Linked DNA regions of Homo sapiens: region 2 is linked to region 1. Evidence: fine-mapped expression QTL. Tissue or cell type: monocytes after Pam3CSK4. Region 1 holds a variant in brackets; the other region holds the start of a gene. All regions are shown on one strand. Distances are between the middles of the regions.

What was found. PIP is the estimated chance that this variant, and not a neighbour inherited with it, causes the effect.
Region 2: it holds the start of LINC01564, and the variant in region 1 is fine-mapped to the expression of LINC01564 in monocytes after Pam3CSK4 (Quach 2016, PIP 0.95). The same link has a PIP of 0.9 or more in monocytes after R848.

Annotation. Positions count from the first base shown.
Region 1 is chr6:53,547,715-53,555,822 of GRCh38, reverse strand. No RefSeq gene overlaps it. Among named protein-coding and RNA genes, the nearest start is that of GCLC, 6.7 kb to the right of the region's middle. RefSeq lists a silencer at 7,452-7,681. The variant T/C (reference allele first, on the strand shown) is at 3,937.
Region 2 is chr6:53,624,469-53,632,576 of GRCh38, reverse strand. It overlaps LINC01564 (long intergenic non-protein coding RNA 1564), which reads right to left and starts at 4,197. Exons shown (of 3, transcript NR_125841.1): 1 at 4,131-4,197; 2 at 3,886-4,002; 3 at 1,183-1,564.

The sequences.
Region 1 (8,108 bases):
ACAAGTAACTGGCCACAAGAGAAACAGAAACAGGATTAAGAAAGAGCCCTAACCCCTCCCATCACAGGCTCCATCAGCACATTAGAGAGGAGTACACTAGGTGACTATATATACATATTTGTGCCTGTGATAATTGCAAATAAAATGACACTAACCATTGTAAATGTTCAGTTCTTCTCAACTATTCTTTTTGACCATCTTGGAAACCCTTGCAAATATTTAAAGACAAGCATTCGTGTAATAGAGTTCATCGTAATACATTGTGAACCCCAAATATCTGAGACGGGTCACAGTCAATTTAGAAAGTTTATTTTGCCAAGGTTAAGGACATACCTGTGACACAGTCTCAGGAGGTCCTGATGACTTGTGCCCAGGGTAGTTGGGGTACAGCTTGCTTTTATTTGTTTTAGGGAGACAGGAGATATCAATCATTATGTGTAAGATGTACCTTGGTTCAGTCCAGTAAGGCACACAGGGTTGGGGGGAGCAGAGGGGGATTCCTTTGAGTCTTTGACCAGCCTTTCACCGAATACACAATTTAGTCTGGCTCAGTGAATCTGCATTTTTATATAAACAATATGGCAGAGGAAGCAATCAGATATGCATTTGTCTCAGATGAGCCTCAGAAGGATGACTTTGATTTCTGTCTATCCCTTGTCCACAAGGAAATTCCTTGTAGGCAAATTGTGAGGGAGGTATGTAGCCTTTTATCTTTGTAGCTATTTTATTTAGGAATAAAATGAGATGCAGGCAGGTTTGCCTGACATCGTTTCCAGCTTGATTTTTCCCTTGGCTTAGTGCTTTGGAGGTCTCGAGATTTATTATCCTTTCACAACATATAGAGGAGTGTCTCAAACTTGATACTACTGACATTTAGAGTAGGACAATTCTTGTTGTGGGATGTCCTGTGTATTGTAAGATAAGTTTTTAGGTGAGTTGAATTTTTTCCTTAAGGTACTTACTACATTAAAGTTTAAGTACTAAAATAAGTGGCAGGAGGTATTGTATGAGAAAAAATACTTTCGGGAAGTACAATATATTTTTTTTTTTTTTTTTGCTTTTAGGAACTGGTCTTATCGAAGCAAAATTGCTCAATTATTCAGTACAATTGCCTTTCTACATAGATGTAATTATGGCTAACACTTTTTCACATCTCATCATCCATGAATGATAGGTTATAGTGCGCCAAAGTTCAATTATTTGGTGTTATCTAATCTAGAATGAACTTTACATATATTTATGTGAACTAAGGTGAATGAAATGGAAGAAAAAAGGCAGAGACTAAGATCAGATATCTTTAAAAAGGTAAATACATGCCTTAGCAATCTTACTCACATTTTGACACTTGGCCTATTTTAGCAATATTAATCACCCATGCACAGCCATTGTCAAATCATTTATACTATATGCGACAAGCATGTTTTTCTGGCTTTGGGTTTTGTTTTTAAATACAAAGCCCCATAATTTGGAACAATAGCTGGATAATTTGGAGTGAAAAAACTGGATAAGATCTACCATCTCCAAATTTAGAATGACAGAAATTGGTTTCCAGTAAGATATGTCAACAAAAAGAGTCAAACTCTATAAAATAGTTGAAGACATTTATTTTGAGCCAAATATGAGTGGTCATGGGCTGTGACACAACCCCAGGTGATCCTGAGAACATGTGCCCAAGGTGGTCGGGCTACATATAGTTTGGTATCATACATTTTAGGTGGATGTAAGACATCAGTACATGAAAGATGGTGGTTCAGTCCAGAAACATGCCCTGAAAATGTGAGACAACTTGGGAAACATGAGACAACTCGGGGTGAGGGGGCTGTATTAGTCCATTTTCACGCTGCTGATAAACATATACCTGAGACTGGGAAGAAAAAGAGATTTAATTGAACTTACAGTTTCACATGGCTAGGGAGGCCTCAGAATCATGGTGGGAGGTGAAAGGCACTTCTTACATGGTGGCAGCCAAAGAAAACGAGGAGGAAGCAAAAGCAGAAACCCCTGATAAACCCATCACATCTCATGAGACTTATTCACCATCACGAGAATAGCATGGGAAAGACCAGCCAGCATGATTCAATTACTTCCCCCTGGGTCCCTCCCAAAACAGGTGTGAATTTTGGAAGATACAATTCAAGTTGAGATTTGGGTGGGGACACAGCCAAAACATGTCATTCCACCCCTAGCCCCTCCAAATCTCATGTCCTCACATTTCAAAACTAATCATGCCTTCCCAACAGTCCCCCAAAGTCTTAACTCATTTCAGAATTAACCCAAAAGTCCACAGTCCAAAGTCTCATCTGAGACGAGGCAAGTCCCTTCTGCTTATGAGCCTGTAAAACCGAAAGCAAGCTAGTTACTTCCTAGATAAAATGGGGGTACAGGTATTGGGTAAATACAGCCATTCCAAATGGGAGAAATTAGCCAAAACAAAGGGGTTACAGGGCCCATGCAAGTCCGAAATCCAGTGGAGCAGTCAAATTTTAAAGTTCCAAAATGATATCCTTTGACTCCAGGTCTCACATTCAGGTCATGCTGATGGAAGAGGTGGGTTCCCATGGTCTTGGGCAGCTCTGCCCCGGTGGCTTTGCAGGGTACAGCCTCCCTCCCAGCTGTTTTCACAGGCTGGCATTGAGTGTCTGCGGCTTTTCCAGGTGCATGGTGCAAGCTGTCAGTGGATCTACCATCCTGGGATCTGGAGGACGGTGGCCCTCTTCTCACAGCTCCACTAGGCAGTGCTCCATTAGGGACTCTGTGTGGGGGCTCTAAACTCCACATTTCCCTTCTGCTCTGCCCTAGCAGAGGTATTCCATGAAGCCCCTGCCTGTGCAGCAAACTTTTGCCTGGGCATCCAGGCGTTTTCATACATCTGAAATCTAGGTGGAGGTTACCAAACCTCAATTCTTGATTTCTGTGCACCTATAGGCTCAACACCACATGGAAGCTGCCAAGGCTTGGGGCTTCCACCCTCTGAAGCCACAGCCTGAGCTGTATGTTGGCCCCTTTCAATCATGGCTGGAGTGACTGGGACACAGGGCACCAAGTCCCTGGGCTGCACACAGCACGGAGACCCTGGGCCTGGCCCACAAAACCACTTTTTTCTCCTGGGCCTCCAGGCCTATGGTGGAAGGGGCTGCCATGAAGGTCTCTGACATGGCCTGGAGACATTTTCCCCATGGTCTCGGGGATTAACATTAGGCTCCTTGCTACTTATGCAAATTTCTGACACCAGCTTGAATTTCTCCCCAGAAGATGGTTTTTTCTTTTCTATCACATAGTCAACCTGCAAATTTTCCAAACTTTTATGATCTGCTTCCCTTATAAAACTTTAACAGTACCCAAGTCACTTATTGAATGCTTTGCTGCTTAGAAATTTCTTCCACCAGGTATCCTAAATCATCTTTCTCAAGTTCAAAGTTCCACAAATCTCTAGGGCAGGGGCACGATGCCACCAGTCTCTTTGCTAAAACGTAACAAGAGTCACTTTTACTCCAGTTCCCAACAAGTTTCTCATCTCCATCTGAGACCACCTCAGCATGGACATTATTGTCAGCTGTCATTATTGTCAACATGTCAGCATGTTGGGCAAAGCCATTCAACAAGTCTCTAGGAAGCTCCAAACTTTCCCACATTTTCCTGTCTTCTTCTGAGCCCTCCAAACTGTTCCAACCTCTGCCTGTTACCCAGTTCCAATGTTGATTCTACCTTTTCAGGTATCTTTTCAGCAACACACCACTCTACTGGTACCAATTTACTGTATTAGTCCATCTTCACACTGCTGATAAAAACATAACTGAGACTGGAAAAAAAAAAGAGGTTTAACTGGACTTACAGTTCCACATGGCTGGGAGGGCCTTAGAATCACGGTGGGAGGTGAAAGGCACTTCTTACAGCGTGGTAGCAAGAGAAAATGAGGAAGAAGCAAAAGGGGAAACC[T/C]CTGATAAACCCATCAGATCTTGTGAGACTTATTCACTATCGTGAGAATAGCACAGGAAAGACCAGCCCCCATGATTCAACTACCTCCTCGTGGGTCCCTCTCAAAACAGGTGGGAATTCTGGGAGATACAATTCAAGTTGAGATTTGGGTGGGGACGCAGCCAAACCGTATCAGAGGGTCAGTTCCAGGTCCCCGCTAATATTTGAATAGGTGGATTCAAAGGTTTTCTGAATGGCAATTGGTTGAGTTTACCTAAGGACCTAGAATCGATAGAAGGGAGTGTCTGGGTTAACTAAGGAGTTGTGGAGACCAAGGTTCTTATTATACAGATGAAGCCTCCAGGTAGCAGGCTTCAAAGAGAATAGACTGTAAATGTTTGTTGGGAGACTTAAAAAGGTGCCAGACTCCGTTAATTCTCTTCTGGATCAGGAAAAAGACCTGGAAAGGGAAGGGGATTCTCTACAGGATGTAGATTTTCCCCACAAGAAACAGCTTTGCAGGGCCATTTCAAAATATGTCAAAGAACTGTATTTTAAGATAAAATACTTGATTTCTTCAGGGCCTATTATCCATCATGTTGGTATTTTATTGTTCCAAAGAACCTGTTTAGTCAGTCTTCAGGTCTGTTTCAATGTTAATGCTGGTCAGCTGTGCCTGAAATCCAAAGGGAGGATGTTATAATTAGGCATGTCTGATCACCTATTCCATCATGGCCTGAAGTAGTGTTTCATATTTCAGGTTTACTTTTTTTTAATTTATTTTTTATTTTTTTTGAGACGGAGTCTCACTCTGTCACCCAGTCTGGAATGCAGTGGCGTGATTTTGGTTCATTGCAACCTCCGCCTCCCTGTTCAAGTGATTCTCCCACCTCAGCCTCCCAAGTAGCTGGGATTACTGGTGCATGCCACCACACCTGGCTAATTTTTGTATTTTAAGTAGAGACGGGGTTTCGCTGTGTTGGCCAGGCTGGTCTTGAACTCCTGACCCCAGGTGATCTGCCTGCCTTGGCCTCCCAAAGTGGTGGGATTACAGGTGTGAGTCACTGCGCCTGGCCTCAGGTTTACTTTAGAATGTTCTTGGCCTAGAGGAGTGGTCCATTCAGGTAGTTGGAGGGCTTAGAATTTTATTTTTGGTTTACGGATATTAGGGTATTGCTCATTATTTTCCATCTTTCTAGATCACCTCCCATATCAGCTGCTCAAACCTCATCTTCTACATTCCTCTTTCTTTCTTCAACCTTCACTTAGAGCTCAGGTCCTGAGATCAGACTTGAGTGAGATTTCCTTTAAACTAATGGGAGGAGGTAAGTAACTGTAACATACAAAGATGAATAATAAGTACATGAAGAGGTGGGCACCATGGCTCATGCCTGTAATCCCAGCACTTTGGGAGGCCAAGGCAGGCGGATCACCTGAGGTCAGGAGTTTGAGATCAACCTGGCCAATATGGCAAAACCCCATCTCTACCAAAAATACAAAAACTAGGGCCAGGCACAGTGGCTCACACATGTAATCCCAGCACTTTGGGAGGCCAAGGCTGGCAGATTACCTGACGTCAGGAGTTCAAGACCACCCTGGCTAACGGTGAAACCCCGTCTCTACTGAAAATACAAAAATTAGCCCGGCGTGGTGGCAGGCGCCTGTAGTCCCAGCTACTCGGGAGGCTGAGGCAGGAGAATTGCTTGAACCCAGGAGGTGGAGGTTGCAGTGAGCCAAGATCATGCCACTGCACTCCAGCCTGGGTGACAGAGCAAGACTCCCGTCTCAAAAAAAAAAAGAAAAAAGTACATGAAGAGCCATTATACTATGTTCTCTCAACTTTTGTGCTTTATTGGAAATGTCCATAATAAAAAGTTATCTTTAATTATTCTCCAGTGAGAAGAGTGAGTCTACAGGACTCAGATATCACTCGCCCTGTCCCAACACATTATCATGGCGTCTTTATCTTCTATAAGAAGACAATGAGATTTTTCTAGGAAAAAAAGCTCACCACTTCCCATGTGTTCTGGATCCCAACAAGTCAGGTCTCCTGAGACATTTTGCTTCTGAAAATATCCTTTCTTGTTCCCACATCTTCAATCTTGCCCCCTTTTGATGCCTACCCATCTTCTTTAGCACACTCAAACTTCTCCATGTTAAAAAAGTTCTTCACTTGAACTTCACAGACCTTTTGTAACTCTACATGAAAACAAGCACATTTATATTTTTCAAAAATCCATGTAAACTAAAAATTGGCTTGGAAAAGGTCAAAAGAGTTTCCTTGCTTTTTTGACAATGACAATAGCACACCTCAGCAGCATGTATTACAAATAGTACACGATACAAAAAGATTTGAACTCTTTCAACTAATTTTAGTAATAACATCAGAAAATGTTTAGGCTGGAAGGGAAACTTTATCTCCTCCAGACTCTCATTTGTACAGATGAGAGGAAAGGACTCTCCAATGATTATCACAACTTTGCTTAGATTGACCCAGCAGGTAGCCCTCTGAGATGGGGCCAAAGCCCCAGTCTTTTGGCTACTGCTCTTCCATCATAAAGCCCCCAGGGATCTTCTTGAATAAGATCAAGTCAAATTCCAAGTACAATTCAATTGTAGGGAGAAAATTCCTTCTGTATCTTTTGTTGTTTAACATGTACACTGAAGTTAAGAAATAACTAACTATTTGTTTTCACCAATTAAGAAATTTAACATTGGGAGGCCGAGGCGGGCGGATCACGAGGTCAGGAGATCGAGACCATCCCGGCTAAAACGGTAAAACCCCGTCTCTACTAAAAATACAAAAAATTAGCCGGGCATAGTGGCGGGCGCCTGTAGTCCCAGCTACTTGGGAGGCTGAGGCAGGAGAATGGCGTGAACCCGGGAGGCGGAGCTTGCAGTGAGCCGAGATCCCGCCACTGCACTCCAGCCTGGGCGACAGAGCGAGACTCCATCTCAAAAAAAAAAAAAAAAGAAAGAAATTTAACAGACAAAAAGCTTAAGGACTTCACAGGCAGATCCGCGGGTTTTGGGGAAAGGGTGTGTCAAGGGAGAAGAAAGGATGTAATGAAGGTTGGCATCAAGTCCCAGGAAGAATCACACTGAAGGCAGCCACCAGCTTCACCCAGGCTAAGTGGTGTAGTAGACAGCTTTGAAATATCACTGGAGTTCAAACCCCAGCTTAGCCACTACCTGTTACTTAGTATTACTGGATCTCAGTTGCCTCACTTATAAAATGTGGCAAAGATTAGTACTGTTTTACGGATACCAGCTCAAAGTGCCTGGCATAGAATGTGATATACTGGGACCCAAGCGACAGACCACCAAGGTCAAGGGATACTCAAGCCAAAGAGAGCGGTAAAGGCAGGGGCAGATAACCTAGAAGTGCCTTCCTCAGAGTCCCCTGGGCACTCTCTCTGTTTTCCTTATTTGATCTCGCGAAGCCGCTGACTCAAGGGAAACTGGGAATGGCGTGACCACAGAGAAAATGATGTATTTTTTGGTCCTTGGAGGCCCGAAACCCATCGTGTCTGAAACGACTGCGGCAATCCTAGCAGCAGCAGCAGCCCAGAGGTCAGGAGTGATGGACTGAGACTTTGCCCTAAGAAGCCTCCCCCAGATTGACCTCCGGCTCGGAGCCCGCACAAAGCGCTGAGTCACGGGGAGGCGGTGCCGCGCGCGGGGGAGGCGGGCCCGCGCAGTCACGTGGCGGGGGCTGTATCACAACAACTGCGCGGCGTGCGCCGCCCGCGGCCCACACCGCTTCCTCCCGCGACAGGCCGGCTCTCCGAGCATGCTCAGCTTGGCCTCACGACTGCACGGCGTCCCCCCATGCGGATCTCCACGGTCCAGGTTTTCCGGACGGCTCTGGGGGCGGGGCCTGTGTTGGTCCGCGGGGCTGCGAGGCGAGGTTGCGGTGCCAGGGCGCCGCTGGGCAGAGATGGGTTCCTGGAGAGCGGGTCTCGCGTTTTTCCGCGGAAGACACTACTGGGAATCGGCCTTTGGTCATGGTCTAGGGAAGAGCTGATTCTGCAAGATATGAGCTCCTTCTTTCCCCTTCAGCTATCGTTACAGCCCTGATGGAGCTGTCTGCTGAAAACTCACTTCCAGATGTCGAAACCTGGCCCTGGGTGCAGTCTACAGAATGAAATCGAGCAGTAGTGGACCTATGCAGGCAAAGCATTGTCAGAGGG
Region 2 (8,108 bases), 77 kb before region 1:
CCACAACACACCAAACACCCTACACATGGATTACAGGTAGTAACTTGCAATGAATTTCTTGGTATCACCATTTCTTTGGCAAATCTATGAGCTTAGTGATAAAAACTTGGCATTAGTGCTCATTAGAAAAAGCCAAGTAGGGTTTAAACAACTGAAAATCCCTAGACTAAGAATCACAACCCCAGAACTGCTAGAAAAAGAGAGACTGAATCACAGTCTAGCAGAGCTTTCCAGGATTAAAGCAGGAGATGAAAACCCTCTCCTTACCCTTGTTTATAACCACATTTTGTGTTAGGATGAAATTTGGCACAACTTCTGCCTGCTATTATTCTTGTAATTTTCCCATCCTTTTTCTGGAACACTGAACTATGGGAGGGTACACCCAACATTGCTGGAGACACCATGCCCTTCACAGGGTCCTCCCAAAGCGCTCCAGACACCAGCACCCTGGATAAAGAACCTGCCACTTTGTCCCAGGGGCTGAGGCTTCTCTCCAGTCTCCTGCGTCTACCCCATTTTCAAGCCCTCTTGCTTTGGTCTCATGTGCCCACACTTTCAACCCAAACTGTGCCTTTCTGGCCAGTCTCTATGGATGAATACCTCAGCTGAACTGTCTACCTGGCTTTCCATAAGATCATCTTTGGTTCCAGGATCTACAATAAAAGCACCAGACCTGATCTATCCCAGTCTGCTCTGACCTCATCATTTTTCCCCTAAGGGCACAAATGTCCGGTCTGTAGCACTAAACCACAGGGACATCTACATAAAATGGTGGCTGTTTCCGTTTTGCTGAATCTGTCTTTTGATGACAATTTCTGGGTTAACTCATCTCAGAACATACCAGAGCCTGAAGGATCTGCTGATCCTTTATATCCTAGGAGAATAAATGAATTAGCAGATATACAGCTCTTAGAAGTGTGCCTGACTAGAATAAGCATCTTATATGTTAGCCATTATTTGATCAAGGTCTCAGCCAGTGATTGTAGTTTCTTAGTGCTACACGGTGTTCAGAGAGATTCTAGAACCTAGCATCTTCCTCTAAAAGCATGATTTATCTTTGGTTGCTGAAATGTTAGTTTTGTCTAGGATCTCTTTTGAGTATTTCTTAATTCCTGTTTTTAAGTAGAGAAGAAAGTCTTTGGAAATGTGATTTTAAGTAGAATGAGAAGGCAAGAATACCTGTAGTATTTGTTTGTATTTTATTTTTAAGCCACGGAAACAATTTTGTCAATAAATAGGTGATCCTTAAACCTTCAAAAGCTTCGTCTAAAACAGAAGCATTGTTTTCATTTTCTTAATAGATGTCTTTTACCATTTTGCATGCAGCCAAAAATATATTTCCCCAATACTAGCACAGAAAGAACTGCTAAAAGTGAGAGACATCCTGTTTATTCAGGGTTACTGCAGTCCCTTGGGGCGAGGACCATCTATTTTCATGTACTGCTAAACTGTCCAAGATTATGATGTGCTGGGTGTTTTTTGCTCATTTCTCATGCTTCATCTCTCTCTCTTGCTGATTTCTTGCCTTTTGAGCTCTTCAGCCAGCTGGCTGTGGTGGACAGGGCTGTAGGAAGGAGTGTAATAGAAATCAGGAAGTGAAGATGCTGATTCCCACACAACCGCCAGACTGGGAACGAGGCTGTCTTAAAGATCATTTGGGCAAAACACACGCTATACTGTCCCTGACATTATCTGTCAAGTGTCCGATCCAGAAGTAGCAAAGTGGGATGGATAATAATTAGTGGGACTATAGGGACCATAATGATAGCTTGGTGGCCACTGGGAAATTTCAGTCAGTGAGCATGGCTCCTGATATGAGATAATGTGTGATCTTTAGACTCAGGTCTCTTTTAGAATAGCTGAAGCTGGCATTGGGCCCATATATGCCTCCAGGTAAAGGACATCCCAGAGACATTTTGTCCAATACAAAGCCTGGAAGATTCCTCATATCTTGTACTAGATTTATTGTTGCCCTTGTTATATATCATAAATATCCATCTTCCGCATTAGATTCTGAGCTCCTTCAGGGTTAAAGTCATATAATTTTCATGTATAGTTCCCCAATGCCCAGCAAGCAATTTATTAATCAATCAACCAATTTTATGAAAAACAAAAAACAAAACAAACAAACAAACAAACAAACCACTGTACTTCATACCTGAATTAGACCAAACAGTTGAAACACTAATGGGACATTAGGACTCCTCCAGGGGGAATTAAAAATGGTATCTCCCTTTCCTCTGTCCCATTCTCTTGAGTCATTTGCGAATGAGCTGGGAATGTTAGTCCCCCTCTTGTCTTAAAATGGAAAGGTTCTGGATGTAGGGCCCTGGAATAGTAATTAGAACTAACTTTCCCCATCCACCCACCCACTACGTGACACAAACTGCCTTCAAACCTGGCTGGAGAGATTCACCCAAATGCTTATTGTCATCTATTGCATCATCTTCTAGGAAAGAAGAAAATTGCTTCCATATCTCCATGGCCCTAAATGGTCTTTATCTAATCTGACCAAAGTCATCTCTTGGCCTTTTGATGCCAACAGCATTGGCCATCCTTGCTGCACCCAGGGTCACCCTGACCAAACACTCTGGAAGTGTGCGTGATTCATCAGGTCCCACCTTATGGAAGTTACAACAGTAGTATGGGTAGGACAATAGGACAGAGTTACAGCAATAGCAGTGGCCAACCTGCATTGCAGAGAACCAAAACTGCAAGTTCTATTTCCATTCTCCATCCAAACAAATACTGTATTTTTTTAAAAAAAATAAATAAATCCAGATATGCCTTCCAGTTCCTTGACCTTAATCTCTCACTCTGGATCTGTTTAGATTCTATGCCCTTCATGTAGCTATTTACGACCCACTGGTTTACTATCTCGGTCTGATGTTCTAGACTCTGACATCTGGTCAAATATTTCATCAAATATTTGATACATGAATGAAGAGGAGACTTTAAGACTTTCAAAAGGATAAGAACCAGAGGCTAGGCATGGTGGCTCATACCTGTAATCCCGGCACTTTGGGAGGCCAAAGCAAGTGGATCACTTGAGGCCAGGAGTTCGAGACCAGCCTGGGCAACATGGTGAAACCTCACCATTATTAAAAATACAAAAATTAGCTGGGCACAATGGCAGGTGCCGGTAATCTCAGCTACTCAGGAGGCTGAGGCACGAGGATCACTTAAACTTAAGAGGCAGAGGCAGAGTCTGCAGTGAGCTGAGATTGCACCACTGCATTCCAGCCTGGGCAACAGAGCAAGAACCTGTCTCAAAAAAAAAGGATAAGAACCAGAGCAGCAAACTCAACCCTGATACATTGCCATGTATCTCAGAAATATCTACCTGGATGTTAAAAGGGTAAATAGAAAGAGTTCACGCTCCATATTCCCCTGGTTAAATTGAGACATTATAAGACGGATGTGGGAAATAGAAGAGAACGAATTATGAGGTGTGCTGGCCCAAAGCCACATGCCTTGTGGGGAAACAAATTCTTTGACCACCCTCAACAACAGTGACTCCCAACCTCCTTGGAATTTTGGCACCCTATCATTATGTACTTGATGATCCAGTCTTGATTTGACAACCTCCACTCCCGCACTTGGCATGAAAAAAGTTATGCAGCATAGATTTATTTCATTTTTTCCTAATGAATGTGAATGAACATGACTTTTATTGCAAGCATTTTATAGCCTTTCTTGAAACAACTTGCATCATCCTGGCTAAATGGAACACAATTTTTCAAAAAAATAAACTTGAGCAGTCGTGTAGCTAACACAACACTACAGTTAGTAAGACAGCATGACAGCAACAGCCCCAAGGAAATAGACAGCAATCCTGGTTTCAGTGAGGGAGACAATGTGAGAGAGGGAGAGCTCCCAGTATACCTGAATATGTTTTCTGCAAATAGATTCCCGAACATGTCCTCACATCCTTCCAGTAAGTTTTCCAGTAAGCCTTCCAGTGAGCATTCACTTGAGCCAGTTTCAGTTTGTTTTCCATCCCTGCAAACAAATGATCCTGGTCTAGATCATGCTGAATTGGCACTCAGAAAAAGATAAACAGAGACCAGTAAAAAGCCTTGGCAGACCCATAATCTACCTTCTCTCATCAGCCCCTCAGAGCACAATACCTTGCTGGAAGTGGAGGAGTGAGACAGAGGTTACTTCGGTGTCTGGGATCATGTATGTGCCGCCTGGTTTTCCTATAACCAGCTCTGACACTTCTGCCTAACAGAGCCATCTACCCATATCTGAAATCCCTAATTCTAAAGTAAAGATAACATTTTTCTTGGCTTCTTTGGCTGATATCTTTGGATAGAGCAAAGGAAAAAGAGAGCAACAACACGGAGAGGAAAGATGAAACAAAACATGGAGAACTGTGTAAATGTATCCCCACCAAAACAAGCACACTTCATTCTACAGAGCACACAAAGAAAAGATCCTGGAGTTAGAAAAAGACTCTGTTACAGCGGAGTAAATACTTGCTGGGCTTTTCAACAAAAATTTCTTTGCCCTACAGACAGGTCTGGCTGCCTAATTTCTGCTATTAAACAAGCTCCAACTTGATCTGGACTTCATGAGGAAATGTGAAATTTGAACCTTTTTATTTCCCCAGCTTTTTTCCGTGCTCCCACTTTATTTTGGTTACTGCCTTGACTTCCACCCCCAGGTGCTATAACTGCTTTATTTCCTCCTGCCCATAGCCTGTTCAACACATGGCGGTTGCTGGTCCATTTTCTCGAAGCACTGCTTTCTGCCATATAACCGTGGGTGGCACCAGTTTATACAGGCAGTGGCAGTGTAGGCAGGAGGCGTTGGTTTCAACAGGGTGACAGCACACAGCTAAGCAGCCAGTGCCTTCTCTGGGCCTCAATTTCCTCATGTATGAAATAGATATTTCCTCACTACTAGGGTTGTTGAGGGGATCAAATGAGAGAGCAAATGCAAAGCTCCTGGCTCAGGGGCAAGCACACAGCAGTACCCGCTAGGAGGATGCTGGCCTTCCCTCTGGAGGTGACAAAGTACCTGCTCCTGAGAGTTCAAGTAACTGGGTCCAAAAGTGCATGGAATTTGAGACAGGTTTATAAAACAGTGGGTAGAGGATGAAGGACTCATGCTCAGGAAGAACTTCTCTGCCCTCACATCCCACTATCCCAGTACATGAACAGAATGTGCTTTTAGAACCCCATCATGGGCTCAGAGGGAAACCTCTGAGAAGATTCAGGAAGCCATTCAGCCAGAAAGGCTGAAGGAAGGCAAACAGCAGAACTCAGCACTTTCAGCATAATGGTCAAAACAGAACTCTGCAGATAAACCTTAATTGTAAAACAAAATTGGTGAAAGAAAAATGGGTGAATTAATGGGGATTCTAATTTAATAAAGTTAGAATTAACTACTGTCAAGTTAAAAGGAAGTTTAAAGTCAGTCTTATTATAAATGATTAGTCCACTCAGTCCTCTGCGGGAACCAAAATTCTCCTTAACATGTTAGGGAAATTAAATTTGTTATTTAGAACCTGTGATAAATCTCTTACACTCTTTGTTGGAAAAAACTTTAAATGCATCATTTATTGAAATTAATCTTCTTTCATTAAATAACCTTTGATTCCAAGAAATAGCAAACCTTTTAACTTTTAACCTACAAGTGAAACAGCCAAATCCAGATAGTAAATTTGAGTTAATTTAGCTGATGATATGGCTGGAAATTTTATTCTCAGAGATATCTTAGAAGATACAAATCTATTATTGTTAATGTGAGAAGAGCAATGTATATGCATATTATTATGTCAATCTTATTTGGTTGTAGTTTTAAAATTTAGCTAGTTATTCTCACAGAATTTTTCATAAAGAATTAAGAAGCCTCCTAGGTTTTATTTAAAAACTTAATAACATAACTTAATAACATAAGCTACATAGAGGTGAAAAAGATAAATGAAAAACAAAAATAAGTAGCTAAACTACAACTAGGAATTAATCCAATAAAAAAAATTTTTAATATACAAAGCTATTTTGCGACCTTGGTAACACCTTTTTAACCAGGTAAGGAAAAAATAGTTTGACTTTTTATAAATATATAATATTTAACTTTTTGCTCTTTCCAGTTTAAACTTTGCCTGTTTGAAGGACATTCCAAAAATATTTCAGTACACTTCTTAAAAACCTTCTAATGCGTCTTCTTAGAATGTCATATGTTATTGCCAAATTAAATTACTGTTTTACTACCTGACAGCTTGAAAACAAGGACTATCATGTTATTAGAAAATCTTGCAAGAAAATAAATCTCAGCAATAATGTGAACTCATGGAAGTGACAGAATTTTTTAGAGACAGATATATAGATACATCTATATCAAATTTATATTTTTTTAGAGATGGAATCTTGCTATGTTGCCCAGGCTGGAGTGCAGTGGCTATTCACAGGTACAATCTAGGCGTATTACAGCCTTGAACTCCTGGCCTCAAGTGATCCTCCTGCCATAGCCTCCCAAGTAGCTGGGACTACAGACATGCCCTACTGTGCCCAGCTTTATCTATATTTTTTAAAGTGGAAAATTTCTGCTGGAATTTCTTGCAAGTTCCTGTTTACATGCCTCTAAGACTTCAAATATACCCTACCCTCCAACTTAATATACTATTCTTTTATTTAAATGATTTTCCCAGTACAGTTTTAGTTTTATTGGCTGTGTGGTTTTGGTCCCAACAAAAGCAGTTACCTTGTAAATTTCAGAAACATATATCTACTAGGTAAATTCGGCACTCACAATCTTAGATTTTCTAACCAAGTCCTGCTTTCAAATATTCAGTGTCATATTCTGTCCAACTGAATCATCAAAGTATCCCAGAAATTCCAGCATTTTGGCAAAAAACAGCACATTCTAATAAAATATATGTTAACTCAAATATACCTTCAAGACACAGACGGTGATGAATCACAAGCTGAAAAATACTTTAGTTAGAAGTAGACCTAGTATAACATTTTTTGAACCCGACATTGTACTAATTGATAAAATGATTTTTTTCCTCTAGTCTGTATAAAACTCTTGGTAAGATTTCCAGTATGTCAGCTAAAAATGTCAATGTCAACAATATTTGCCTTGGTATCCCCAACATAAGACAAAACAGTTGTTCAATGAATAGTGTTTTGAGTGCTTCTTTGTTGACTATGTACTGAACACTGTTAAGCACTAAGAACATAGTTATTAACAATCCCCATAGAGCTTTCAGCTTTTTTCATTTTTGTATCTAATTAGGGAAAATTTCCAACATCTACAAAAGTGGACAGAATGGTATCATAAAGTCTCACATACTAGTGCCCAGTTTTAATAATTGTCAACTCATCACCAATCACAACTCCACTCCATATTAATTTGAAAGCAAATCCCAGACATCCTAACATTTCATCTATAAATATCCAATATTTGATCATGGGTTTAGAGATAAGCCTATCAGTATTATGCCACCTAAAAACCCCAATAATTTCTAAATGTTATAAAATATTCAGTCAGTATTTAAATATCCCTGATTGTCTCATAAACTTTTTGAACAGTTTTTTTGTTTGTTTTGTTTTGTTTTGTTTTTTGCTCAGCTCCACACTTTGCAGTTGGTTGACATCTCTTAAGTTTCATTTAATCTATAGTTCCCCATCTGCCTTAGTTTGAGTTCCTCCAGAAATACATCTAAGACAGGATTCAAGTATAGGTAGTCAATTTGGAAAGTGCAGTGTACACCATAAAGGAGACAGCATGTGATACAAGAAAAAGCAACCCAAACCCATAGAGGTTGAGCTGTTAAGCAATTTACCAGTGGGTGACTGAAGCTTAATCCTTCGGGGAAGTTCTTGAAAAAGGGATAAACATACACCCACCTCAGAATTATGTCCCTGGGAGTTGAAGGAGCTTGGGTATGTAATCATCCACTTTATTTAATCATTGGTTAAGGGTTGCTTCTGGGGTTGTTAATTGCTTGGCACTTCTGGCGTTCTGCAGTTCAGGAGAAAAAAAAAAAAAAGCTCTTAGGCACCAAAAGGCAGCTACTGACAGTTGGGAGCAAGGCTGAGCACAGTGAAGGGCACAGAGGATATGGGTGGGCACCAAGAGCATCTGCCACTTCC